Linked DNA regions of Homo sapiens. The protein of the gene in region 1 interacts with the protein of each later gene in a biochemical or structural test. Each region holds a gene or a part of one and is shown in the gene's direction. Other genes may lie near its edges. The genes, in order: CUL3, KBTBD13, PDCD6, RCBTB2, DCUN1D5, CAND1 and CDC34.

Region 1 (3,500 bases):
AGCACTTTGGGAGGCTGAGACGAGTGGATCACTATATCAGGAGATTGAGACCATCCTGGCTAACACGGTGAAACCCCATTTCTACTAAAAATACAAAAAAATTAGCCGGGCGTGGTGGCGGGCGCCTGTAGTCCCAGCTACTCGGGAGGCTGAGGCAGGAGAATGGTGTGGACCCGGGAGGTGGAGCTTGCAGTGAGCTGAGATCGCGCCACTGCACTCTAGCCTGGGTGACAGAGCGAGACTCTGTCTCAAAAAAAAAAAGAAAAAAAAGATGAATAGTTATTTAAAAGCTCTTATTTTCAAACTTTAGTGTACATGTTTACTCTTTGAGACTGGGAGTGGGATGGCACTGGAAGACTTAATTAACCAGCAGTATGCCAGCAAAGCTTATGATAAACATGATGAATCTTTCTGGTTATAATTTTACATTAAAACAAATCAAAAAAGAATGTCCCACTGTATCTTGGAGTCAGATGCTTCTAAGCTTTTGACCCTCACTGGCGTGTATATACTTGTTCTGCTATTTTTTGGAGTACATTGGCACAGTTTGAAAAACATTGCTTACAGATAATGTTTTAATTTAGTATTATGTAAATACCAAAGGCTTTAAAGGATATAATTCAGACTATATCAGTCTTTCGTGTAATGAGAAATTACACAAAATGCTAATAGTACTTATTTTATTTAGGCTGATTTATTATAAACACTGTAGAAACCCAGCTAAAAGCAAAAACACTCTTTTCTTCTATGTTTAAAAAATATATATATTTTTAAATGGCAGATGGAAAGCCAGAAATTTTTAGCAGAAAATAGTGCTTCAGTATATATAAAGAAAGTAGAAGCTAGAATTAATGAAGAAATAGAACGAGTGATGCACTGCCTTGACAAATCAACGGAAGAACCAATTGTAAAGGTGGTTGAAAGGGAACTCATTTCCAAGCACATGAAGACTATAGTAGAAATGGAGAATTCTGGGCTAGTACATATGTTGAAAAATGGAAAGACAGAAGGTAAGTGTTACCGATTGAAAAATAATTAAATCCTTACTCTGCCTTATCGATATTTTTAAAATTTTCCTACAATTAAAGCAGATAATATCAGCTTTCAAGAAGTTTTGGTGTGTATTGTTAATTTGTCTCCATTGTTAACTTTAATGGGATTTCCAAGCTTGATTCTGTCTTACTAACGAAGATTTTAGATATTTCTAATGAATTGAGCATTTCCTGTCTTTAAGTCTCATTTTACATTTAATCCAGAAGATAAAAGGTGTAATAGTATTGGTGAGCCCAGTGAGCTCCTCATTCATTCCTGTACTTCCTGTATACCAAAGGGTGTGGGCTCTCTTTAGTCCTACATACTCTCTTGGGGTTTTGTGATTCTCTTAAAACCTTAAGTTTCCACCTTAAGATTTTTGTAGACTTTCCTTTGGGATTTAGTTGTGACAGGGTGCTGAAAATGCAAAAATATTTGTGTCTTCCATATTGACATACTTAGATAAATTAGATTGGTTTGGGGAACACTGAAGTTACAGAATGGAAAAGGAGGAAGGAGGAGTGCATAAAAGTAAAGAACATTTTTGAGATAACTAACATTTGTTTTTTATAGCTATTTATTTTCCTGGGGTAAAAGAAAAATTGTGACAAGTATCCTAGAAGAAATTACAAGTTAAAAGAACAATAACCATATCCTCTATTCTTAGTTTCTGATGCTTTGTTTTAAAACTTTGCCTTTACCACTTATATGGTATTAGGAAATAAAAAACATGGTACTTTGTTCTCCTGCTTCCTAGACGAAATCTAAGCAATATTTTATCCACTTCTTTTTAGTAAAAGAAATACATATTGCCTGTTGGGGTCATGAGCTATGTAGGGAATGAAAAAATTTTTTAAAGGAGAATTATAAAGAGAAGGAGGATACAAGAGAAAGGAAAACGAAAGCTGGTGGGAAGTTGAGCCATGTTTATCTCTAGTGGAATCCTTACCTTGTGTTTTAAAATTGTTAAATGTTTGTATATATGAGAAATCCCTGAAAAGTTATATGTAATTTAAAAAAACAAAAAAAAAACAAAAAAAACTAGAGAGGCTTCCTTTTTAAAAGACTCTTCAGTTAAACCTTTTTTGTAAAAGCCAAAAAAAAAAAAAAAACAGAAGTCATCTAGTATATTTGCTGTGTTTTCTAAAATTGAGGTCCAAGTCAGGGGTTGGCAAGCTTTTTTGTTGTTGAATAAAATGGCTTGTGAGCCACGCAGTCATAGTGAGAAAATAGTCCTAGACAATAACAAATGAATAATCCTGTGTTTCTATAAGACTTTATTTATGGGCCCTGAAACTTGAATTTCATATAATTTTTATGTGTCACTAAATAGCATTCTTTACAGTTTTTCCTCAGCCATTAAAAATGTGAAAACCATCCTTAGTTCATGAGCTGTACATAAATAGATGGCAGGCTGTATTTGCCCCACGGGTTCTAATTCGATGACCCTTCTCTAAGTGGTCTCTGGTAGACTGGGACTTTATGCAAAGCATTTGCCCTGCTTAAACAAAATGAGTATTGATAAATTATGTAATGTACTGTTTAGGTATTGAATGAATGCTTTCTTACCTACCTTAGGGGATAGGAAATGTTTGATGGAGAGGTTGTTGGGCATACCTGAATTACAGCATCTCTGTAACCTGTGTGGAGATGTATGTAAAAGGTGTCAGGTATGCCTATCATGGCGAGCACTTACGTGAATGAAGGAATACCATAATAGTACTCACCAGAGTTCTCCTTTATTTAGTACCTTAGGTTTCCAACAACACAGTAGCTATCTGTGATTCTAAATTAAATTTTAAAATCCTGCTTTTGTCCAGGCAGGGTGGCAAACGCCTGTAATCTCAGTATTTTTGGGAGGCTGAAGCAGGTGGATCGCTTGAGCTCAGGAGTTTAAGACCAACCTGGGCAAATTGGTGAAACCCTGTCTCTATGAAAAATACAAAAATTAGCTGGGCATGATGGCACATGCCTAGTCCCAGCCACTTGGGAGGTTGAGGTGAGAGGATCATTTGAATCTGGCTGGGGAGGTCAAGGCTGCAGTGAACCAAGATGATGCCACTGCACTCCAGCCTGGGCTACAGAGGGAGATCCTGTCTTAAGAAAAAAAAGGTGGGGGGGTTAATTTTTCTGAGCTTCCGCTAGAAACCTGGTGGCAAAATATCCTAATTGTGGTAGGCCCTGCTCTTGGAAAAAATGTTGCTCTTGTTGAGAATATAGCAGAGCCAACTTCACCATTATGAAGCCAAATTCTCATAAATCAGAAAATGAAAAACAGTTTTCTCACTGTGAATGGAGGATAAATTGGATTGATTATTAGATGCAGATAGCACTATGAAATGAAGTTCAGAGGTATCTTTTTTTTTTTTTGAGACGAAGTCTTGCTCTGTCGCCCAGGCTGGAGTGCAGTGGTGGGATCTCAGCTCACTGCAAGCTCTGCCTCCCAGGTTCATGCCATTCTCCTGCCT
Region 2 (4,255 bases), on another chromosome or scaffold:
ATGCCTGAGCCTCCCATCCACTCCATGGGCTCCTGTGCGGCCCGAGCCTCCCCGACGAGCACTACCCCCTGCTCCACGGTGCCCAGTCCCATCAACCACCCAAGGGCTGAGGAATGCGAGCGCATGGTGCAGGACTGGCAGGCAACTCCACCTGCAGCCCTGGTGCAGGATCCACTAGGTGAAGCCAGCTGGGCTCCTGAGTCTGGTGGGGACGTGGAGAGTCTTTATGTCTAGCTCAGGGATTGTGAATACACCAATCGGCACTCTGTATCTAGCTCAAGGTTTGTAAACACACTAATCAGCACCCTGTGTCTAGCTCAGGGTTTGTGAGTGCACCAATTGACACTCTGTATCTAGCTGCTCTGGTGGGGCCCTGGAGAACCTTTATGTCTAGCTCAGGGATTGTAAATACACCAATTGGCACTCTGTATCTAGCTCAAGGTTTGTAAACACACCAATCAGCACCCTGTGTCTAGCTCAGGGTTTGTGAGTGCACCAATCAACACTCTGTATCTAGCTGCTCTGGTGGGGCCTTGGAAAACCTTTATGTCTAGCTCAGGGATTGTAAATACACCAATCGGCACTCTGTATCTAGCTCAAGGTTTGTAAACACACCAATCAGCACCCTGAGTTTAGTTCAAGGTTTGTGAGTGCACCAGTCGACACTCTGTATCTAGCTGCTCTGGTGGGGCCTTGGAGAACCTGTATGTGGAAACTCTGTATCTAACTAATCTGATGGGGACGTGGAGAACTTTTGTATCTAGCTCAGGGATTGTAAACCCACCAATCAGCGCCCTGTCAAAACAGGCCACTTGGCTCTACCAATCAGCAGGATGTGAGTGGGGCCAGATAAGAGAATAAACGCAGGCTACCCGAGCCAGCAGTGGCAACCCGCTCATATCCCCTTCCACACTGTGGACGCTTTATTCTTTTCCTCTTTGCAATAAATCTTGCTGCTGCTCACTCTTTTGGGTCCACACTGCTTTTATGAGCTGTAACACTCACCGTGAAAGTCTGCAGCTTCACTCCTGAGGCCAGCGAGACCACAAGCCCACTGGGAGGAACGAACAACTCCAGACACGCTGCCTTAAGAGCTGTAACACTCACAGCGAAGGTCTGCAGCTTCACTCCTGAGCCAGCGAGACCATGAACCCACCAGAAGGAAGAAACTCCAAACACATCTGAACATCAGAAAGGACAGACTCCAGACACGCTACCTTAAGAGCTGTAACACTCACCTCGAGGGTCCGCGGCTTCATTCTTGAAGTCAGACCAAGAACCCACCAATTCTGGACCCATTATTACCATTTCTTCTAAGGATATGAGTGATCACACAGGTCTCCAGATGCCCTCCGGGCCTGCAGCCATACAGCCTGCGGGCCACCACATCACATGAGCCATACTATCTTTAGCCAGGGAGAGATATTTATAGCCCCCAGGGAAGTTTTTTGCTCCAGGGGAGCCCCAGAGTTGGTGGCTGGCTAACCCAAGGCCCCAGCGGCAGCCTCCGCCCGGCCAGCTCGCCATGGCACGGGGTCCACAGACCCTGGTGCAGGTGTGGGTGGGCGGCCAGCTCTTCCAAGCCGACCGCGCCCTGCTGGTGGAGCACTGTGGCTTCTTCCGAGGCCTCTTCCGCTCCGGCATGCGGGAGACCCGCGCAGCAGAGGTGCGCCTGGGCGTTCTGAGCGCGGGAGGTTTCCGCGCCACGCTGCAGGTGCTGCGCGGCGACCGGCCGGCGCTGGCGGCGGAGGACGAGCTGCTGCAGGCCGTGGAGTGCGCCGCCTTCCTCCAGGCGCCGGCGCTGGCTCGCTTTCTGGAGCACAACCTCACGTCGGACAACTGCGCATTGCTGTGCGACGCGGCCGCCGCCTTCGGCCTGCGCGACGTGTTCCACAGTGCCGCGCTCTTCATCTGCGACGGCGAGCGCGAGCTGGCGGCCGAACTGGCGCTGCCTGAGGCCCGCGCCTACGTGGCGGCCCTGCGGCCCAGCAGCTACGCGGCCGTGAGCACGCACACGCCCGCGCCCGGCTTCCTGGAGGACGCCTCGCGCACGCTGTGTTACCTGGACGAGGAAGAGGACGCGTGGCGCACGCTGGCTGCGCTGCCCCTGGAGGCCAGCACGTTGCTGGCCGGGGTGGCCACGCTGGGCAACAAGCTTTACATCGTGGGGGGCGTGCGCGGCGCCAGCAAGGAGGTGGTAGAGCTGGGCTTCTGCTACGACCCCGACGGCGGCACGTGGCACGAGTTCCCCAGCCCGCACCAGCCGCGCTATGACACAGCGCTGGCCGGCTTCGACGGCCGCCTCTACGCCATCGGCGGCGAATTCCAGAGGACGCCCATCAGCTCCGTGGAGCGCTACGACCCAGCCGCGGGCTGCTGGAGTTTCGTGGCCGACCTGCCGCAGCCGGCCGCCGGCGTGCCCTGCGCCCAGGCTTGTGGCCGTCTCTTCGTGTGCCTGTGGCGGCCGGCCGACACCACCGCCGTGGTGGAGTACGCAGTGCGGACCGACGCGTGGCTGCCAGTGGCCGAGCTGCGGCGTCCGCAGAGCTATGGCCACTGCATGGTGGCCCACCGCGACAGCCTCTATGTGGTGCGCAACGGACCTTCCGACGACTTCCTGCACTGCGCCATCGACTGTCTCAACCTGGCCACGGGCCAGTGGACGGCGCTGCCCGGCCAGTTCGTCAACAGCAAGGGAGCGCTCTTCACGGCCGTGGTGCGCGGTGACACCGTCTATACGGTCAACCGCATGTTCACGCTGCTCTACGCCATCGAGGGCGGCACCTGGCGGCTGCTCAGGGAGAAAGCCGGCTTCCCGCGGCCCGGCTCCTTGCAGACCTTTCTCCTAAGGCTGCCTCCTGGCGCTCCTGGGCCTGTGACTTCGACAACGGCAGAACTGTGACCTCTGGGCTGGCTTTAGGAGGGAGGAGACGCCGCGACTCCTCCCTGAGCTATGGCTGAGTGTGTGAGGCCGGCCTTAGAAGTAGCTGGCAACTTCCCTCTTTCTACTGAGACACCCAGGTTTGGTGCCTTCTGGTGGTGTGGACATGTTCAAGAAGCTCAGGGAGCAGTGATGATGCCCTCAAATTACTTGGGCTCTGCTGAGAGCTGGTGGGTCACAATGTCAGTGAACAGGGTAGGGGGAGTTGGGATTTGAATAATCCGGGCTTATATGTAATGGGCTAGTGATTGAGCATCGCTGGGAGCGACTTAAATGATGTTAATCAAACTGCAAGTAGTAGGCAAGAATTAGGCACCTACTGTATGCCCAATACAGTGTTATGCGTAATGAGAGCCGTAGTTGCCACACAGGGATCCAGGAAGCTTAAAGGATAACCCAGAAAACAATCTTAACAGTTACAGGACAACAAAAAGGTTTACACACAACTTGATCCACAGAGTTGAAGGCAACATGCAAAAAAATTTAAAACCGCATACAATATAATAAAATAAAGTGCTGAAGAAATCAGGGCAAAGGGAAAATAGGAAGAGAAAAAATATATAACTCCAGAAAAGAAGAGAGTGTGCAAACTCTATGGAGGAGATGAGCAGGATACCATTAGCTGCTGAAAGGGGAGGCTTAGACCATGGAGGCTGAGAGCTCAGAAGAGAAGCAGGGTTGGGGAAGGCTGGAGCAGATGGGGAGGGTCTCTGCAAGTCCAGCCATACCAGCAGAGCAGCAGTAGTTGGGGCATCTAGAGAGGGGATGAGACTGGGCCAGCTTGCAGCAGATAATGACTGAGCTGAGCCTGGAGTGAGACCTGTGGGGGCGAGAGGATTCTTCACGTTCCTTTTTGGAACCCTTAGGGGAGCACCCAGGTGTAAGCCCTTGCCCACCCTGTTTTTGCCATCACCACGGGGCAGTGGACTGTTAACCCACATGACTTCAGGTCAGTTGAGGTATGAGCCAAATCCTGCCTCATCTTCCTCAGTTGTAGCCCCTCCTCCACATTCTACAGGTTTGTTCTCTTCCTGTCCTATTCTGCCCTTTGCAATTCCCTGGGCTGGAATGCCTAGTCTCCTCCTCTCTCCCTGTCAGTGCTCTACCATCCTCTGTGCAGCATTGGCTCACCCAGCTCTTCGTTTTCCTGACCTGGGCTGCCTGCATTGCTCATTGGACCCCTGGCTGTAACATCATTGTGTGTGCACAACCACGTGTGTGGATTGTAAGGGCAGAGATCCTGTTAAGTGAGCTGGGGGACTTCCCTGTCCCAGATTAAAATGATGATGCCTTGAAAGAACCCAGGCTACAGAG
Region 3 (2,915 bases), on another chromosome or scaffold:
AAACTCTACGGTTGGGGACCCTTTCCTGCCCCTGCCTCTCGGGGTTCCTGCCAGGTTGGATGACATTTTTACAATGTTCTCTGAACACTTTCAAAAAAGTGTAGGCTGGGCCTGGTGTCGCATGCCTGTAGTCCCAGCTACTCAGGAGGCTGAGGCAGGAGAATCACTTGAACCCGGGAGGTGGAGGTTTCAGTGAGCCGAGATCACACCACTGCACTCCAGCCTGGGTGACAGAGCCAGACCCTGTCTTAAAAAAGAAAGAAAAGAAAAAGGGAAAAGATGCCGTGTAAAATCTCGTTCTGTGTCTGAATTGCCGTAGGGCTCAGATCTTCATTTGAGGTTCTGTGTCTGAATTGCCGTAGGGCTCAGATCTTCATTTGAGGTTATGTTCTATAAGTTAACGTTGATCTTGTGTGAGCTTTCGGTAGCTGGAGTAACACAGGCGGCCTCACAGCGACCTCTCCAGCGCCTTCCAAGGCACATCTGCAGCCAGCGTAGCTCCTCCTGGGAGATGCCTCCTCAAGGCCCTGCTCCAGACCACGTGGGGAGGGCCTGACAGCCAATTCCCAGGCTGTCCCCACCCTTGGAGAGTGACCCTAAACGCTAGACAGATGGGGAATGGGAAAGAAAAGAAAGCTGCAGACCTCAAGTTAAAATTCCCTCAAAAACGTTTTTATTTATCTGCTTTTTCTGAAAGGATAAAGGCTTTTTGAAAATTATTTTCTAACAAATAACATGAACACTTCTAGAAACCCTAGAAAAACACAAAGTATTCAAAATAGAAAGAAAAATTACCCATTACTCTTTAAGCCAGCATTATCCATTGCGGTGCTTTTGGAGTTGGGTGAGGCCGTAGCCTCTGCCAAGTCAAGGAGCCCGGTGGTGGCTGTGGCATTCCTGCAGGGTTGTTTTTTTTTCTTTGAGATGGAGTCTCACTCTTGTCACCCCAGCTGGAATGTGGTGGTGTAAACAGCTCACTGCAGCCTTGACCCTGAGGCTCAAGCGATCCTTCTGCCTTGGCCTCCTGAGTAGCTGGGATCCCAGGCGAGAGTCACCACACCCTGTCCATGTTCCTGCAGGTCTTGATGTGCGAGGACGCTGTGTCTTCCCTGCCACATTTTCTTCTTCTTTCTTGAGACAGACCCTTGCTCCATCACCCAGGCCAGAGTGTGGTGGTGCGAACACGGCTCACTGCAGCCTCGACCCTCAGGCTCAAGCGATCCTCACGCCTCGGACCCCCAAAGTGCTGGGATCACAGGCGAGAGTCACCATGCTGGCCTGAATCTTCAGGGTATTTTACGGTTGAAGTGTCACTTACTTAACCATCCCTGTTTCAGGAGTGTAGGTGGTCACCCTGTCTCTGCCGCTGACCTGGCCTGGACCCTCGGCTGTGAGAGGGAGGGGTGGGCTGGGCTGGAGGAACCTGAAGCCCTCGTGATGTCACAAGCCCATCTGGCTGGGCATCCCCTGCGCTGCACATGCCCCAGGTGGCCCCCACAGCAGAGGCGAGCCACTGGAGGGTGGAGGGCTTCCACGGGACGGTCTTCAGGGGGAGAAGGAAGGGCCCAGGCCCCCAGGAGACTCAGGAGACCAGAGCCTGGGGTCAGGGGCTCAGCCAGGGGCTCAGCCAGGGCTGGATGTCCGGAGCCAGCCCCGCAGCCCTGTGTTCTTCGTTCTTCGCACTCCCACCGTCCGTGTGAACAGCTCCAGCCCCACCTGCGCCTCCCTGTGCTGGGCTCCATCAGGGAGCCCAGAAGACGTGTGTGCTTCTGAAATTGGGTCCCTACATGCCTTTGTCCCAGTGCACCTTGCTCCTTCCATTTACTATCGAGATTTAAATGCCTGTTTTCTCCCCAGAGGTTGACGGATATATTCAGACGTTACGACACGGATCAGGACGGCTGGATTCAGGTGTCGTACGAACAGTACCTGTCCATGGTCTTCAGTATCGTATGACCCTGGCCTCTCGTGAAGAGCAGCACAACATGGAAAGAGCCAAAATGTCACAGTTCCTATCTGTGAGGGAATGGAGCACAGGTGCAGTTAGATGCTGTTCTTCCTTTAGATTTTGTCACGTGGGGACCCAGCTGTACATATGTGGATAAGCTGATTAATGGTTTTGCAACTGTAATAGTAGCTGTATCGTTCTAATGCAGACATTGGATTTGGTGACTGTCTCATTGTGCCATGAGGTAAATGTAATGTTTCAGGCATTCTGCTTGCAAAAAAATCTATCATGTGCTTTTCTAGATGTCTCTGGTTCTATAGTGCAAATGCTTTTATTAGCCAATAGGAATTTTAAAATAACATGGAACTTACACAAAAGGCTTTTCATGTGCCTTACTTTTTTAAAAAGGAGTTTATTGTATTCATTGGAATATGTGACGTAAGCAATAAAGGGAATGTTAGACGTGTGGTCTGCCTTCAGCTTTTCAAATCAAATAGGTCCAAGAACCAGGCCCCGTGCCCTGGTCCTCCAGACAGTCAGTGTCAGATGTTCTGGCTTGCCTGGGACCTCCCAGGGTACCGGGCACCTTCTGGAACATTGTCCAGCCCAGCGTGCACAGCTCTGCTTGTGAAAATCCAGAGGGACTGTCTCACCCTCTGTTCAGGAGGTTAAATTTCATAAGACTGCTCCTTTTGGATGAAGAAATCCAATTTGGTATAGCAGGTTGTGCATTTCCATCATTAATGATTTAGCCATGCTGTGCCCTGCAGTCTCTGCACGTGGCCTGCAGCGTTTGTCCACCCAGCGCATCCTGCTCACCTCGGTCCACTGCCAGCGCTGCCCGGTCCGCCTCCCTGCCTCACTGTGCAGCGCCGGCCCTCCTGGGTTGACACTCCCGAGGCCCAGCCTCATTCTCCAGACGCTTCCCTTCCACAGTGATGCGTCTGGTTTTGGGGCTGCAGCCTCT
Region 4 (3,500 bases), on another chromosome or scaffold:
TTTTGTATTTTTAGTAGAAACGAGGTTTCTCCGTGTTGGTCAGGCTGGTCTTGAACTCCCGACCTCAGGTGATCCGCCCATCTTGGCCTCCCAAAGTGCTGGGATTACAGGCGTGAGCCACTGCGCCCGGCCGCGAGTGGCAGTTTTTTATCGGCCCACCACTAACATTTGTGGGGCTGTAGCCAAGACTCCAAATGGAGACCTATGTTCCATATGTCTAAAAACTTAAAGTTATATGTCAAGCTAGTGAACTTCAGATAAAAATATGTCCAATCCTCCCACCTTGAAAAATGTAATTTCATTAAGAACTGAAAGGACAGGTTTCAATTTTAGTTGACATTTAGAGTTGCAGGACTTCTTGTGCCAGAACCCAATGGCACAGGCAGGACAGACCCCTCCTCCAGCAGAAGGGTGTGTGGGCACCCTAGCTTGCATTCCAAGCTCTATCCACCCCCAACCCAGGTTACCCTTTTGGGCCAGGGGGTCTGCACATTGGTGGTGGGGTCTAAGGGAGGAAATACCCACACATGTGGCCTCAAGGCCAATTATGCAGGCAGTCCCAGGTTCCCAGGTACCCAAAGTGTGGTCTAGAAGTGGGCATGTGGCTCCTTAGCCACCCTGTGCTGAAGGTGTGCGTGGAGGAGGCGCAGAGCTGGGGCTTGGGGCAGAGTCCTCTCTTAGGGCAGTGCAGCTTGCATGTGTGTCTGAAGCTTGGGGCCAAAAACAATGAAGCCATTCACAACTCAAGATTTCAGTGTCCTCCAGTGGGCTATCTGTCTTTCCTCTATAACTTTGATAATATTTGTTATTAAAAAAGCAAGTTTCCAACCAAAGTCTACCACATGTATAAGATTTATTAGCAGATAGACACAAAAACAATTAATATGGTAAAATTGATGAAATCCCTGCTCTTTATACTTCGTACACTCTATTAAGTACCTTGCATGAAAAGTTAGCTTGAGGTGGACATGACAGTGTTCTAGTAGCCGGATTCAGCTAGCCTTTTGATCCTGGCTACCACTCATTTCAGCAATGACAAACTAATTCTGACATTCTTTATGCTAATTACAAATCCTGTAATGAAGATTCAGAAAAACAAATAGGATCTTTCAGATGCTGATTGACTGCTTCAATTAGAGTACTTCCTATCATTCCTTGGGGTAGATTAAAATTAATTTACATATGTCACCTCACCCAGTCTACGTTGAATTACTTGAAAATAGGTGACAGGTAATATAACAGGACTCACCTGCATATATAGATGATATTTAAAACCCTGGGGCTGGGGTTTTGGGAAGTAAGTGAGGAAAGTGTCTGAGGATTTAACCCTGGGGCACTCAAACATTTGGAAGTCAGGAAAAATGATCCAGCCTAGAGAACTGAGGAGCAACTAATTAAAGAGAAGAAAAATGCAAGCAAGTGACAAAGTGTCCTAAGGAGAGCATTATCAACCATATCAAATTCTGTGTAAATGTCGAGTAAGAGGAAACCAGAGAATATTGCACCCTCAAAGCCACTGTGACTGCCACAGGTGTGACCACCAAGGGTGTGACTGCAGTAGTGGTGGGGATGGGGTTCTGCTTGTAATGGCTTGAGGTCAGAATGGGAGGTGGGAAAATGGAGACAGCAGATACAGATAGCTCTGTCTAGGAGTTTTGCTGTAGAGAGGAGCAGTGGGATAGGGTAACAGGAGGAAGACACGTGTCCATGAAAGGGTCTCCCCTCCCCTCCTCTCCCCTCTCCTCCTCTCCCCTCCCCTCCTCTCCCCTCCCCTCCTCTCCCCTCCCCTCTTCTCTTCTCCCCTCCCTTCCCCTCCCCTCCCTCTCCTGTCCTCTCTTCTTTTCTTCTCTTTTGTTTTCTTTTCTTCTTTTCTTTTCTTTCTTTTCACGGCGGGCACTCTTACAGCATGTGTGTGTGCTCCTGGGAGTGGCCCAGGAGAAGCTGACATTGAGATTGCAGGGGAAGGGGTCATTCAAGGCGCACATGCTTTTTTCCTAGGAAAAAAATATTAAAGCTATTTTCCCTGTGCTCCTGTTTTTCAACAGCTAATGATTTGTGTATCATGTTTGCTCAGCTTGGCTGCCATCCTGGGTAGAGCCCCACACTGAAGTGTAAGTGTCAGTCAGCATCAGTCTATGCAGTGCTTCACTGAGGATTATATCTAAAATAGTGTCAAAATCATCTCTGAGTGGCTGAGTGAGCAACTGTAAATCAGGATGCTTGAAATCACTCCCCCTAATAAACACCTCTTTCCGCCAGGACTGCTAGACTTGGCTACATTTTATAGAGAAAATCGTTTGAAAAAGCTCTGCCAACAAACTATCAAGCAAGGCATCTGCGAGGAGAATGCCATCGCTCTGCTCTCGGCTGCGGTGAAGTATGATGCACAGGTAAGGAAAGCTTGCTTCCAGCTGCCGGCCTCCTGGAGAAATGGAACCCAGGTGTCTGCCTCGTACCTTAAACTAAAAGAAAGTCTGGGTAGAGGAAATATTTAATATTTTTTAAAAAATGAAGTAACAAGAGTACTAGACAACGTATAAGCAAGTATTTATATAATGTTGGGATGGACATCAAAGGCAGAAGCCATAAAGGATTTATAGCTCTGATTTAAAAAGATAAGAAACTTTTATCCACTTAAAAATACCATAGAGAAACTTACAAAGTAATGAGACACTGGGAAAAATACTTGCAACATATAATGAAGTCTGTTTACCAGAGTGAAAAACAAAAAGACAATAGGAACAGTTTGGTTGAAAGAAATGGACCAAAGAACAAATGGCTCTATAAATAGACAAAAAACATAAATGAAAACAAGGTATAACTTTTCACCTGTCAAAGCAGGAATATATTTTTAGAGATAATGTATAGGATCAGAATAATGGTGTTCTCCTAAACTGCTGATGAGAGTACAAATTGGTATGGAGAACAATTTGGTATAATATGTATTAAGCACCTTAAATTAAAGACATAATTCTTCAAGGAATTCACTCACAAGTATTTATCTTGAGGAATTAATCATGGATTTGCACAAAGACTTAGCTTCAAAGGTGTTTACTTCAGCAGTTTATAATTTTGAAAAATCAGAAAAAGGTTAGTGTGAATAGTGGAGGCTTGTTTATAAAATGTTAATATCAAGAAATTATGCAGCTATTCAAGATATATCACTAAGTGAAAAACTTATCCTATTTTTATTTTTTGAAAAAGTATAAATAGCTGAATAAAAAACTAAAATTCATTATCTACATAGAAAAAAAGACTGAAAACTATGCTTAGTGGTTATCATTGAATGGTGGGATTGTGGGTGATTTTTATTTTCTTCTCTTTGCTTATTTTTTTTTAACTTTTACAGTGACCATGTATTGTTATGATAATAAAGAAAGGAAAGAAAACCAATCTTAGAACCAAATCTTTAGGAAACAGGCTGTAACATCTTCGAGTCAGTTTCCTTTTGGTATAAGGATATCCTCTCCTTTGGTCAAAGAAAACAGAGACATTTTAGT
Region 5 (3,500 bases), on another chromosome or scaffold:
ACATTAGTTACAGACCTCGCTTTAGACTTAGATCTGTTACTATTTACATCACTTTGGCAAAGTCAGTTAACATTTACAGACCTTATCTAAGTTATAAGGTATTATATCTCTATGTAATCTCATTTGACTTGCTTCTAACCAAATTTTAATTAGTAATCACCAAGTAATCCTCCAGTTTCTAGGGGGGCTATACTGATATTTCTTTTTTATTTTTTATATTTTTTGAGACAGAGTCTCGCTCTGTCACCTACGCTGGAGTGCAGTGGCGCAATCTCGGCTCACTGCAACCTCTGCCACCTAGGTTAAGTGATTCTCCTGCCTCAGCCTCCTGCGTAGCTGGGATTACAGGCACCTGCCACCACGTCTGGCTAATTTTTGTAGTTTTAGTAGAGACAGGGTTTCACCATCTTGGCCAGGCTGGTCTTGAAATCCTGACCTCGTAATCCATCTGCCTCGGCCTCCCAAAGTGCTGAGATTACAGGCGTGAGCCACTGCTCCTAGCTTATGCTGATGTTTCTAGACATCCTCTAAAGCTTTCTCTTTGAATCACTAATGGCAACTTTGAGAGCAAGTATGTTTTCTTGATGCTTTAGAAAAATTTACAATATATTTACATCGTGGCTTTTAAAAAAACCGTTTGTCTTTTCCCTTAATTTTTTATTTTTTATTTTTTTTTGAGACAGGGCCTTGCTCTCTCCCAGGCTGGAGTACAATGGCGTGATCATGGCTCATTGCAGCCTCAAACTCCTGGGCTCAAGCAATGCTCCCACCTCAGTCTCCTGAGTAGCTGGGACCACAGACTGGCACCACCACACAAGGCTATTTTTTTTTTCCCTAGAGATGGGGTCTCCCTGTGTTGTGCAGGTTTGTCTGGAACTCTTGGGCTCAAGTGATAATCCCACCTCGGCCTCCCAAAGTGCCAAGATTACAGGCATGAGCCACCGCGCCTGGGCCTCTTAAATTTTCAAATCTGATTTTTGTTTTCTTTCAATCATATATAAGAATACATACTCATTTATGCATTTTAACACCTTTATTGTATATGTATGCCTTTTAAGTTATAAAATTAACACATTCTCATTTAAACAATTCTCCAAATATGTAAAGGAAGAGAAAGTGCCCTATAATTAATCACCCCCTTCACCTTTTAACACGAGTGCATTGTTAGTACTTATTTAAACCTAATAACACTTAACATGTTACACAAAAAAATTAAAAAGGGTTTTGGCTTCAGACCAGTATTAATGTCATCTTAGCAGCTTGGATCTCAGGCAGCAAGAATGTATTGACTTTATGTTGTGCTAGTAACCTAAATATGGTGCTGTCAAATTTACCTGAGCAGCCTTGGTCTAGTCTATGGTTTATAAAGCTGGAGGATTTTCATCCTTGAAAAAGGAAAATAGAGGCTTCTCTTGACTCTTAAGAATAATATCTCAAGATTATATTTTCAAAATCCCATAGTGGTAAACACATTTCTCATATTATTACAAAATTTGTTTTATTCTTATCCAGTCACAAAAGAGACCTAGTGATGATGTAATTACTATATTTTGGGAATCTGATAACATTTTGAAAAAATGATAATTGATGTATTGATTTATTAATGTTGCTAAGGGTGTAAAATAAGGAACAAGTTAAATGCCAGTAATTAATTTTTGGATGAATGATAGACACTAACTAATTGAAAGATTAAACTTCTGTTTCTACATTAAGGTGACATCAATGCTTGCTGTCTGTTTTAGAACCAAGATGATAAGGAAAATAGCTCTTTCTGGAAATGGAATGTAGTAATTTCCATAAGTCATTATTTTCAAAATACCTTTGTCTTTTTCAATAATTAAATTATATTTGAGTGTATTTCAAAAGGGTAATAAATGGCCTGTTTTATAGGTAAATATATTCCCCTTCTGATTACTGTATTGAACTTTGTGTTGGTTCTGATATTCCAGTAGATTAAGAAGCTCCAGCTGCCTTATGTTTTTTCATATTCATGCATTGTCAAAAATTTTATTCAGAGTAGGCTCTCAGTGAATTTTTTTTTTAATGGATTGGTTTGAGTTTTTGTACTAACTTGTGATTGATACTAATGGAGTATTTCTTTGCTGCTTTTTAAATTTTCTTAATTTCATATTGTAATCTGGTGTTCAAAGAATACTTCACAAATTTTAAATTTTAAATCCTGTAGCAAATATTTATACTTATCAAAGCTATGCCAAAATTCAAATTTAATTATTTGCAAAATATTATGGTGTGTTCATGGGTACCTTTAGCATGACGATTTATGTTTTATGTTGATATTATAACAAAATATGTTAATTATTTTTGTCTTTGAAGGTCCTGATGAAGTTGTAGGGCCAGAAGGAATGGAAAAATTTTGTGAAGACATTGGTGTTGAACCTGAAAATGTATGTTTTATTTCTAAGTAGAATGGCATATAAGTGGGGTATAGCATATTCGTAAATTACTAAAAATCGAGACACTTTAATCTTGTATGAAGATTTTATTTCTTCATGTTTAATATTGTAAATTTGCATTTAAGGTATTTTTAATCAGTTTAAGTTGGGCAAATGTATTCTTTCTTGATACAAATGTTATATGTAATAGAATAAGAGATTCTACCTTCAGAAACTGTTAGAACTTTTTACTTTTAAGAAATTGGCACATCTCAATTTCTTTGTATATAGTTAATAATTCCAGAGGTTGTACTCTTTAATAGTTGAAGGATGGAAGTAGTTGTGTAAAAATGCTCTCCATGATAAATATAGACATGATTATCTCTATGCTGACTTTTCCCCTATCCTTTATGTTCTGTTCTTTCCAGATTATTATGTTAGTTTTAGCGTGGAAATTGGAGGCTGAAAGCATGGGATTTTTTACCAAGGAAGAATGGTTAAAGGGAATGACTTCATTACAGTAAGAAATTTTTTTAAAAAACAAATTTGATGGCCTATTTGAAGATCTTAATTGATATTTTGTGCTTCATAATTTTCAGGAGTAAGGTTTCACCTTAAATCAAATCTGTTTGATCTATAACAATTAGTTTGGGGATTGAAAAAATTATATTGTGGTCTTGGGCAAATATATAGGTACCCCATGTTTTATATTCTCTAAGAAAGAACCTTAGTACAGTCCTATTAAAATTCCTTGATTCTCTTGGTGAGTGACTTAAAAGTCTATGATCAAAGACCTATTTATTTACAGGTTGTTTGAGTATAAGGATTTTCCTCTCTCAATACAGAATTCTACTATCGAAGGAGTATGTTCGTTGGGCAGCCCTAAGCTCTAGGGCCTCCTCTCCCTTCTTCACTTTAATATTTGACTTTAAAAATTTGAAGATAGAGTTACATAACCCTTTTATGATTTCTTTATTGCCAAGTGAATTTCATAAAGGACAAAAGTAGAAATGTTGTAACTGCTCCCGTGCAATCTTTACCCATTTTATAGTCCTACACTTTCAGTTTAGGATCCTGTCTTTGAACATTTTCATAAGTTATAGAATT
Region 6 (3,500 bases), on another chromosome or scaffold:
AAAGGAATGAGATGGCACTGCCTACAGGTCATATCAACCTGGGAATTCCATTGAAGTCTGAAACGTAAACATTTATCTTTTTCTTTTCCCGTCTTAATGCCTTCTTTATCCTTATTTTGGCCTGTTAAATTACCATCCACTGAAAGTCACAAGCAGAAAATCTTTGATATCACCCTTCTCCCGTCTGTCTTCTTTAGTCTCCTGATGAGTATTTCTCAAATTAATCTTGCTGTCTCAGGCCTCTTCCTAACCCAGTTTGTTCCCTCTGGCCATTAGAATTTTCTTCCTATATACTGCAGCTGATCATTGCCTCCCTCACTAATTTCCATTGACTACAAGATAAACTCCAGATTTCTTAGCTGTTGCCCATCTGAATTCGTAGAGACTGCTCTCCTAAAATCCCCAACAGTCTCCCTAGTCTCCTAATATAACTCATTTAGTGGATATTTTCTTTGCTCATCTATTTGGTATATTTTTTTAAATCACTTTTTCCTTCTTGGAATTCTCTTATATGGGCATCCTGACACGAGTTGGGTTTTTGTCCGTAATAGTCAGGGAAAACACACACTTTAGGGTATCAGAGGATGTTAGAAGGAACCTATTCATTTGGGTAATTTGGGAAAGAGTCTAAGGAAGTGAAGCCTTGCTTTAGGTTGAGTGTTGTCAGAAAGTGAGGTCAATTCTATGATTCGGCCTCTTAATAAATTTTACAGGGAGGGCTGACCTAAGCAGGGGGAAAGCTGTAGTTGGTAAAGAAGTATCAGTCACTCATTTAACTGGAGAGGGGAATGTTTGGTATTTTGTATTGCTCAGGGACCTTGTCCGAAATGGATGTTCTGTGAGATTGTTTATGTCCAAGAAAACAATATGCCTTAGCTGTTAAGCATCAGATCGGTTAGTAATAACACTGAGGTTTAGTTATGAGTCTCAGATAAGTTTCTGGAATGTGGAGGCTGCTGTTTTTTTCTTTATCAGTGCCCACTTTTGGCCAAGGGTAGACAAAGTTGGGCTGCAGGACATTAATTTTTGATTTTCACATCTTCACTATGGCGGAGATTTTGTTAAGATCAGAGGAATATCCATTCCATGTAGTTTGCAGTTTAACCAAAGTTAATCCTTTCTTCTGTTGTAAGATGAGCAGTTTATTCATCTGATGTGACAATGGCTGCAGGGTAACATTAAGACTCTGGACAAGGATATGTTAGCTGACTGTATTACCCAGTCTTGTGGTTTTCCTTTTACTTCTTTCCTGCTAGCTCATCCTTACCATCCCTATATCTAATCCATTTTGAAGAACTATTAATTTTAGTTTGTAAAATTCAAACCAACTAGTTCTCATTATTTGTAGTATGTTTTGTAACATTATCACAAACACTGAGTTAGCAAGTACTGAACCATTGCTTCTGAGGGAATTATGGAATTAGTTTCTCTGAGTCCTGAGTCACATTATTTTAATCAGTTGATGAGTTTGTAACCTCGTTTTATGAGTGTTTCTTTTAAAGTTGTCTTAATATATATTGCTGATTTATTAACATTGAATTCACAGCCAATAAAGAAGCTTATCTAACACATATGTTTTTTTCAGAAGGCACATTATAGCCTTCTTGCACTTAGGAATGCTAGACAGCATTTCAGCACTGTGCTTGGAGGCCATATTAAACAACAAGAGCGCCAAGAAAAAGCACAAACATGTGAAAAACATGGGCTGAAATAGGCCAAGAAGAAGATGCTTGTTTACAACATGAGAGCTGGAGCTAGAAGGCAGAGTGTTGCTTTGTGCCACCACAGCTGGGAATGTATGTGTTGGATTACTCAAAATTTTCACCACTCGACACTCATCCAAATGACTGTGAAATAGGAAGCATTAATTTTGCTTTACAAATAAATGTTAATGAGTAGGTGAATTTGCAAATATGGAACCTGGGAATAATGAGAATCAACTGTATGTCATTTTTTTTTCCATCTTCATTGATTGCCATAACCTAAGTCAGGCCATCATAATTTCTAACTTAGTCATTCTCCTAACTAGTCTCCATTCAGTATGGCCAAATGAAGATTTGTTCTCTCCAAAGTATGGTCCACAGTATAGCTGGAGTAATGTTTCTGAAATGTAAATCTGATCATTGCATTTATTCCCCATCTGTAACCCAGTTGTTTTTCAGTAGCTTCCCACTCTCTTAGAATAAAGGCTAAAATCCTGATATGGTCTACAAATCCTTTAAATTCCTGGCCCTTGCTTACCTGGCACTAACTTCCTCCTGCTTCACCGTAATTTTGCCTACTCTTTATTTATTTTTGAGACAGAGTGTCACTCTTTTGCTCAGGCTGGGGTGCAGTGACGTGATCTTGACTCACTGCAACCTCCACTGCCCGGCTTCAAGCGACTGCCGCCCAGGTTCAAGCATTTCCCCTGCCTCAGCCTCCCAAATAGGTGGGATTACAGGCATGTACTACCATGCCTGGCTAATTTTGTATTTTTGGTAGAGACGGGGTTTCACCATGTTGTCCAGGCTGGTTTGGAACTCCTGACCTCCACCTGCCTAGGTCTCCCAAAGTGCTGGGATTACAGGTGTGAGCCACCATGCCCAGCTCCTACTCTTCAGATCAGTCTTTCCTGACACAACCCGCAGTTCAGTCTAGGTCATGTTACTTTGTTTATATGATAGTGCTTTCTTGTTTTGGGATGAATCTCACTCTGTCACCTAGGCTGTAGTGCAGTGGCTCAATCTCGGCTCACTGCAACCTCTGTGTCCCAGGTTCAAGCGATTCTCCTGCCTTAGCCTCCCAAGTAGGTGAGATTACAGGTGTACACCACCACACCCAGCTAATTTTTGTAATTTTAGTAGAGACAGGGTTTCACCATGTTGGCCAGGCTGGTGTCGAACTCCTGACCTCAGGAGATCTGCCTGCCTTGGCCTCCCAAAGTGCTGGGATTACAGGCGTGAGCCACTGGCACCTGGCCCCATAGTGTTTTCTTGATAACACTTTCCTTCATAGCATTTATCTTAGTTCTTAGTTCTACAGGTGCTTACTCATACATGCAATTTAAAAAGTTAATATGCCTTTTACTAGACTGCAATGTAAGCTCCAAGACAGCAAGAATTGTGTGTGCTTTGGTTAGCCCTTATATCAGCAAAAACTAGTACAGTACCTGATATGTAGTAGGTTCTTATTACACAGTGTATGAGTATATAACGCCATTCCCATTTTGACCTCAGCCTATATTCCCATCATCTTCCTATTAGGTTTCTGTGCTCCACATACTGAACTGTTTCCTTAGTCCTTCACTCTGAGGTGCTCTGTCCTTCCCCACCACCAAAAAAAAAAAAAAAAGTAATTTAAATTCCAAACCAATTTTTCCCATGCAAACCCCTGTTCATCCTTTGAGATCCAACCTAACAGTCAACTCTTGGGTGTGATAATTTCCATATGCTCTTGAGTAGTGTTTTATAAAATGTATTGAGATCTGTGCCCTTAGCACCATACCTAAAAGAGTAAAT
Region 7 (3,500 bases), on another chromosome or scaffold:
AAGACCCCCGAGTGCCCTCCCTGTCCAGACCTCGCCCATGATCCAAGACCCCCGAGTGCCCTCCCTGTCCAGACCTCGCCCACGATCCAAGACCCCCTGAGTGCCCTCCCTGTCCAGACCTCGCCCACGATCCAAGACCCCCTGAGTGCCCTCCCTGTCCAGGCTTCCACCACGATCGCTCTGGGGGTGCTGCTCTCGTGCCTTGGAGTGCTGAGTGCCACCAGGACCCCTGACCCAGACAACCTCTGTGTCTGGCACTGGGGCCCAGCAGGAAAACAGTGAGGCTTCCTTGTTTACCTGCTGTGGCCCAGGAGGGCCGTGGGTGGCATCACGCCCCAGGCTGCAGGCCAGACAGCTCTGTCACCTGGCACGTGGCTTCAGGCCTCCCTCTGTGGCCGTCCTTGCCAGCAGATCTGGACCTCCAGGGCCTGGGTGACCACAGGGGGCGATGCTGACAGGGAAGGAGTCCTGCCAGGTTTCTGTGACCTATGGGTCTGCCTGCCTGACCCCCCAAGACCGGACACCTGAGGGCAGACGGCCATACTGACTCATCCCCTCCCACGGCCTGGGCCAGGGCAGGTGTCACAAGTGTTTGCTAACTGAGCAATCATCTGTGCTAACCCTCCCCACACCCTGGCTGCCAAGGCCCTGGAGGTGCAGCCCTGGTCCTGGGCTTCAGCTCCATCCAAGGGGAGCCTGGAGCCCCTGCCAGTCCATTCTGTCTGCTGGTGGGTGCCCCTGGCCTGGGTCCCATATGCCTGACCTGGGCTGCCACGGGCCTGGAGCCACGCGGGCAGCCAGTGCCCACGTTCCCCAGCAGTTGTGCTGGGCCGGGTCCCGGCCACCTGGACTGTGTAGGAGCTGGGATCAGCTCGGGTGACTCAGAAAAGGCTTCAGGCAGCCTTCTGGGGACTTGACCCCAGGCCTGTGAGAGTCCCTGCCTTGGGCAGGATACGGTGTCCCTCACACACACCCTCAGGCACCAGCACTGGGAGTGGGATGGCCTTGGGCACCTTGTGAGCTGGGGCAGGTCTTGGGGCTGGGCTGGACTGAGCCACCTGCCTTCTGCCCCTGCAGGCGCGCCTCAAGTTCCCCATCGACTACCCATACTCTCCACCAGCCTTTCGGTTCCTGACCAAGATGTGGCACCCTAACATCTACGAGGTGAGCGCGGCCCCCACGGGCCTCAAGTCCTCATCCTCCGGGACCCAGGGTGCTGGGAGCCTCACGTCCTCATCCTTCCGGGACCCGGGGCGCTGGGAGCCTCACGTCCTCGTCCTCCGGGACCCGGGGCGCTGGGAGCCTCACGTCCTCGTCCTTCCGGGACCCGAGGCGCTGGGAGCCTCATGTCCTCGTCCTTCCGGGACCCGGGGCGCTGGGAGCCTCACGTCCTCGTCCTCCACGTCCTCATCCTCCGGGACCTGGGGCACTGGGAGCCCGTGCTGACCTCTGACCTGTTCTGACCTGTCTTCTTCTTGTGCAGACGGGGGACGTGTGTATCTCCATCCTCCACCCGCCGGTGGACGACCCCCAGAGCGGGGAGCTGCCCTCAGAGAGGTGGAACCCCACGCAGAACGTCAGGTAAGCCGGCCCAACCCCCTGTGTCCACCCAGAACATCAGGTAGGCCGGGCTCCGTCCCGTATCCACCCAGACCATCAGGTAGGCCGGGCTCCCCCACAGGCTGTGGCGCCAAGGCCTGATTCGGGACCTGCCAGCTGGCGGTCCTGGGCCTCGCTGTACCTGCACGGTAGGTGCTTTCACGGGGCCTGCGGCACCGTGTGTCGGTGCAGACTCCCACCAGGACCCCAGGCCGGCCCCACCGTCTGGAACCACCTAGAGGTGTCCCGCCATCCTCAGTCCTGGGGCCTTCTCCTTACCCAGCCGTCTCTGGGTTGGTCACCTCGTGCCACGTGTGCCGCCTGGGCCTCGTCCCCAGGTACAAGCACTGGGCCGTGTTGCCCGTGTGTCCTGGAGTGTAGTCTAGGCAGGACGTGCGGGTGTGAGGGCAGCCCCGGGTCTGACGGAGGGGTCTGCACCTTGCTGCCCTCCCTGGTCTTGGCGTGGGAGGGAGGAGACTGATGCAGGTCCAGCCCCTGCTGTTCTGGGGGCCTGAGACAGAAGCAGAGGCCATGAGGCCAGGTGAAGGTCACCTGCTGGGTGGGTCCAGGCGTCCCCGTGACCCTCAGGGCCAGAGAAGAGCCGGAAGGCTGGGGTGCCCCGGGCCGCCCCACTCCGACCCACTCTCCCCACAGGACCATTCTCCTGAGTGTGATCTCCCTCCTGAACGAGCCCAACACCTTCTCGCCCGCAAACGTGGACGCCTCCGTGATGTACAGGAAGTGGAAAGAGAGCAAGGGGAAGGATCGGGAGTACACAGACATCATCCGGTGAGGGCGGGCGGGGGCGTCACGGGAGGAGAGACTCAGATCCGGCCTGCACCCCGGCCCCTGGTCCCACGGCCGCCCAGCCCCACCTTCCTGGTGAGGGTGGCGGAGCTTCCTGGTGCCCATTTACAGGGTGCCAGTCACAGATGGAGGCCGGGCCGAGTGGCGGAGGGTCCAGCCAGGTTCAAGCCCAGCTTCTTGCCCCTTTTCCTCTTTTTTTTTGTTTGAGACAGAGTCTCTCTCTGTCACCCAGGCTGGAGTGCAGTGGCGCGATCTCGGCTCACTGCAAGCTCCGCCTCCCGGGTTCACGCCATTCTCCTGCCTCAGCCTCCCAAGTAGCTGGGACTACAGGCGCCCGTCACCACGCCCGGCTAATTTTTTGTATTTTTAGTAGAGACGGGGTTTCAGCGTGTTAGCCAGGATGGTCTCGATCTCCTGACCTCGTGATCCATCTGCCTCGGCCTCCCAAAGTGCAGGGATTACAGGCGTGAGCCACCGCGGCCGGCCTTTTTTTTTTTTTTTTTTTTTGGAGACAGAGTTATACTCTCTTGCCTAGGCTGCAGTGCAGTGGTGCGATCTCGGCTCACTGCAGCCTCCACTACTCGGGTTGGAGCAGTTCTCCCCCTTCATCCTGCCAAGCAGCTGGGATTACAGGTGCCCACTACCACGCCGAGCTAATTTTTGTAATTTTTAGTAGAGGTGGGATTTCACCATCTTAGCCAGGCTGGTCTCAAACTCCTGACCTCAGGTGATCCACCCGCCTCGGCCTCCCAAAGTGCTGGGATGACAGGCGTGAGCCACTGCACCTGGCCTGGTGGTTAGTGTTTTCATAGATTCTTCCAGGCTTTTCAGTTTAACGCATGTCTGTGCTTTAATGAAGAAATGGGGTCGTGCTGTGTGTGCCCAGTGACTGACTGTTAGGGAACATGTGTCTGTGCCTTAATGAAGAAATGGGGTCGTGCTGTGTGTGCCCAGTGACTGACTGTTAGGGAACATGTGTCTGTGCTTTAATGAAAAAATGGGGTCGTGCTGTGTGTGCCCAGTGACTGACTGTTAGTCAGGGGTGTTGGCCTTACTCATGTCTGGAGTGCGTCCCTGCAGGCTCTTGGCCTGGT

What was found.
Region 2: the proteins of CUL3 (region 1) and KBTBD13 form a complex in vitro, tested with the Homo sapiens proteins (one study listed by IntAct).
Region 3: the proteins of CUL3 (region 1) and PDCD6 form a complex in vitro, tested with the Homo sapiens proteins (one study listed by BioGRID).
Region 4: the proteins of CUL3 (region 1) and RCBTB2 form a complex in vitro, tested with the Homo sapiens proteins (one study listed by BioGRID).
Region 5: the proteins of CUL3 (region 1) and DCUN1D5 form a complex in vitro, tested with the Homo sapiens proteins (2 studies listed by BioGRID, with this or other methods).
Region 6: the proteins of CUL3 (region 1) and CAND1 form a complex in vitro, tested with the Homo sapiens proteins (one study listed by BioGRID).
Region 7: the proteins of CUL3 (region 1) and CDC34 form a complex in vitro, tested with the Homo sapiens proteins (one study listed by BioGRID).

Annotation. Positions count from the first base shown.
Region 1 is NC_000002.12:224,508,864-224,512,363, reverse strand, and holds part of CUL3 (cullin-3), read left to right. Parts: intron 1-781; coding exon 782-1,010; intron 1,011-3,500. UniProt on the Homo sapiens protein: Core component of multiple cullin-RING-based BCR (BTB-CUL3-RBX1) E3 ubiquitin-protein ligase complexes which mediate the ubiquitination and subsequent proteasomal degradation of target proteins.
Region 2 is NC_000015.10:65,075,291-65,079,545, forward strand, and holds the start of KBTBD13 (kelch repeat and BTB domain-containing protein 13), read left to right. Parts: upstream 1-1,455; 5' UTR 1,456-1,525; coding exon 1,526-2,902; 3' UTR 2,903-4,255. UniProt on the Homo sapiens protein: Substrate-specific adapter of a BCR (BTB-CUL3-RBX1) E3 ubiquitin ligase complex.
Region 3 is NC_000005.10:312,560-315,474, forward strand, and holds the end of PDCD6 (programmed cell death protein 6), read left to right. Parts: intron 1-1,857; coding exon 1,858-1,956; 3' UTR 1,957-2,415; downstream 2,416-2,915. UniProt on the Homo sapiens protein: Calcium sensor that plays a key role in processes such as endoplasmic reticulum (ER)-Golgi vesicular transport, endosomal biogenesis or membrane repair.
Region 4 is NC_000013.11:48,495,081-48,498,580, reverse strand, and holds part of RCBTB2 (RCC1 and BTB domain-containing protein 2), read left to right. Parts: intron 1-2,259; coding exon 2,260-2,390; intron 2,391-3,500.
Region 5 is NC_000011.10:103,082,161-103,085,660, reverse strand, and holds part of DCUN1D5 (DCN1-like protein 5), read left to right. Parts: intron 1-2,334; coding exon 2,335-2,405; intron 2,406-2,821; coding exon 2,822-2,913; intron 2,914-3,500. UniProt on the Homo sapiens protein: Contributes to the neddylation of all cullins by transferring NEDD8 from N-terminally acetylated NEDD8-conjugating E2s enzyme to different cullin C-terminal domain-RBX complexes which is necessary for the activation of cullin-RING E3 ubiquitin ligases (CRLs).
Region 6 is NC_000012.12:67,275,858-67,279,357, forward strand, and holds part of CAND1 (cullin-associated NEDD8-dissociated protein 1), read left to right. Parts: intron 1-3,500. UniProt on the Homo sapiens protein: Key assembly factor of SCF (SKP1-CUL1-F-box protein) E3 ubiquitin ligase complexes that promotes the exchange of the substrate-recognition F-box subunit in SCF complexes, thereby playing a key role in the cellular repertoire of SCF complexes.
Region 7 is NC_000019.10:534,760-538,259, forward strand, and holds part of CDC34 (ubiquitin-conjugating enzyme E2 R1), read left to right. Parts: intron 1-1,077; coding exon 1,078-1,164; intron 1,165-1,483; coding exon 1,484-1,581; intron 1,582-2,253; coding exon 2,254-2,388; intron 2,389-3,500. UniProt on the Homo sapiens protein: E2 ubiquitin-conjugating enzyme that accepts ubiquitin from an E1 ubiquitin-activating protein, and catalyzes its covalent attachment to other proteins by an E3 ubiquitin-protein ligase complex. In vitro catalyzes 'Lys-48'-linked polyubiquitination.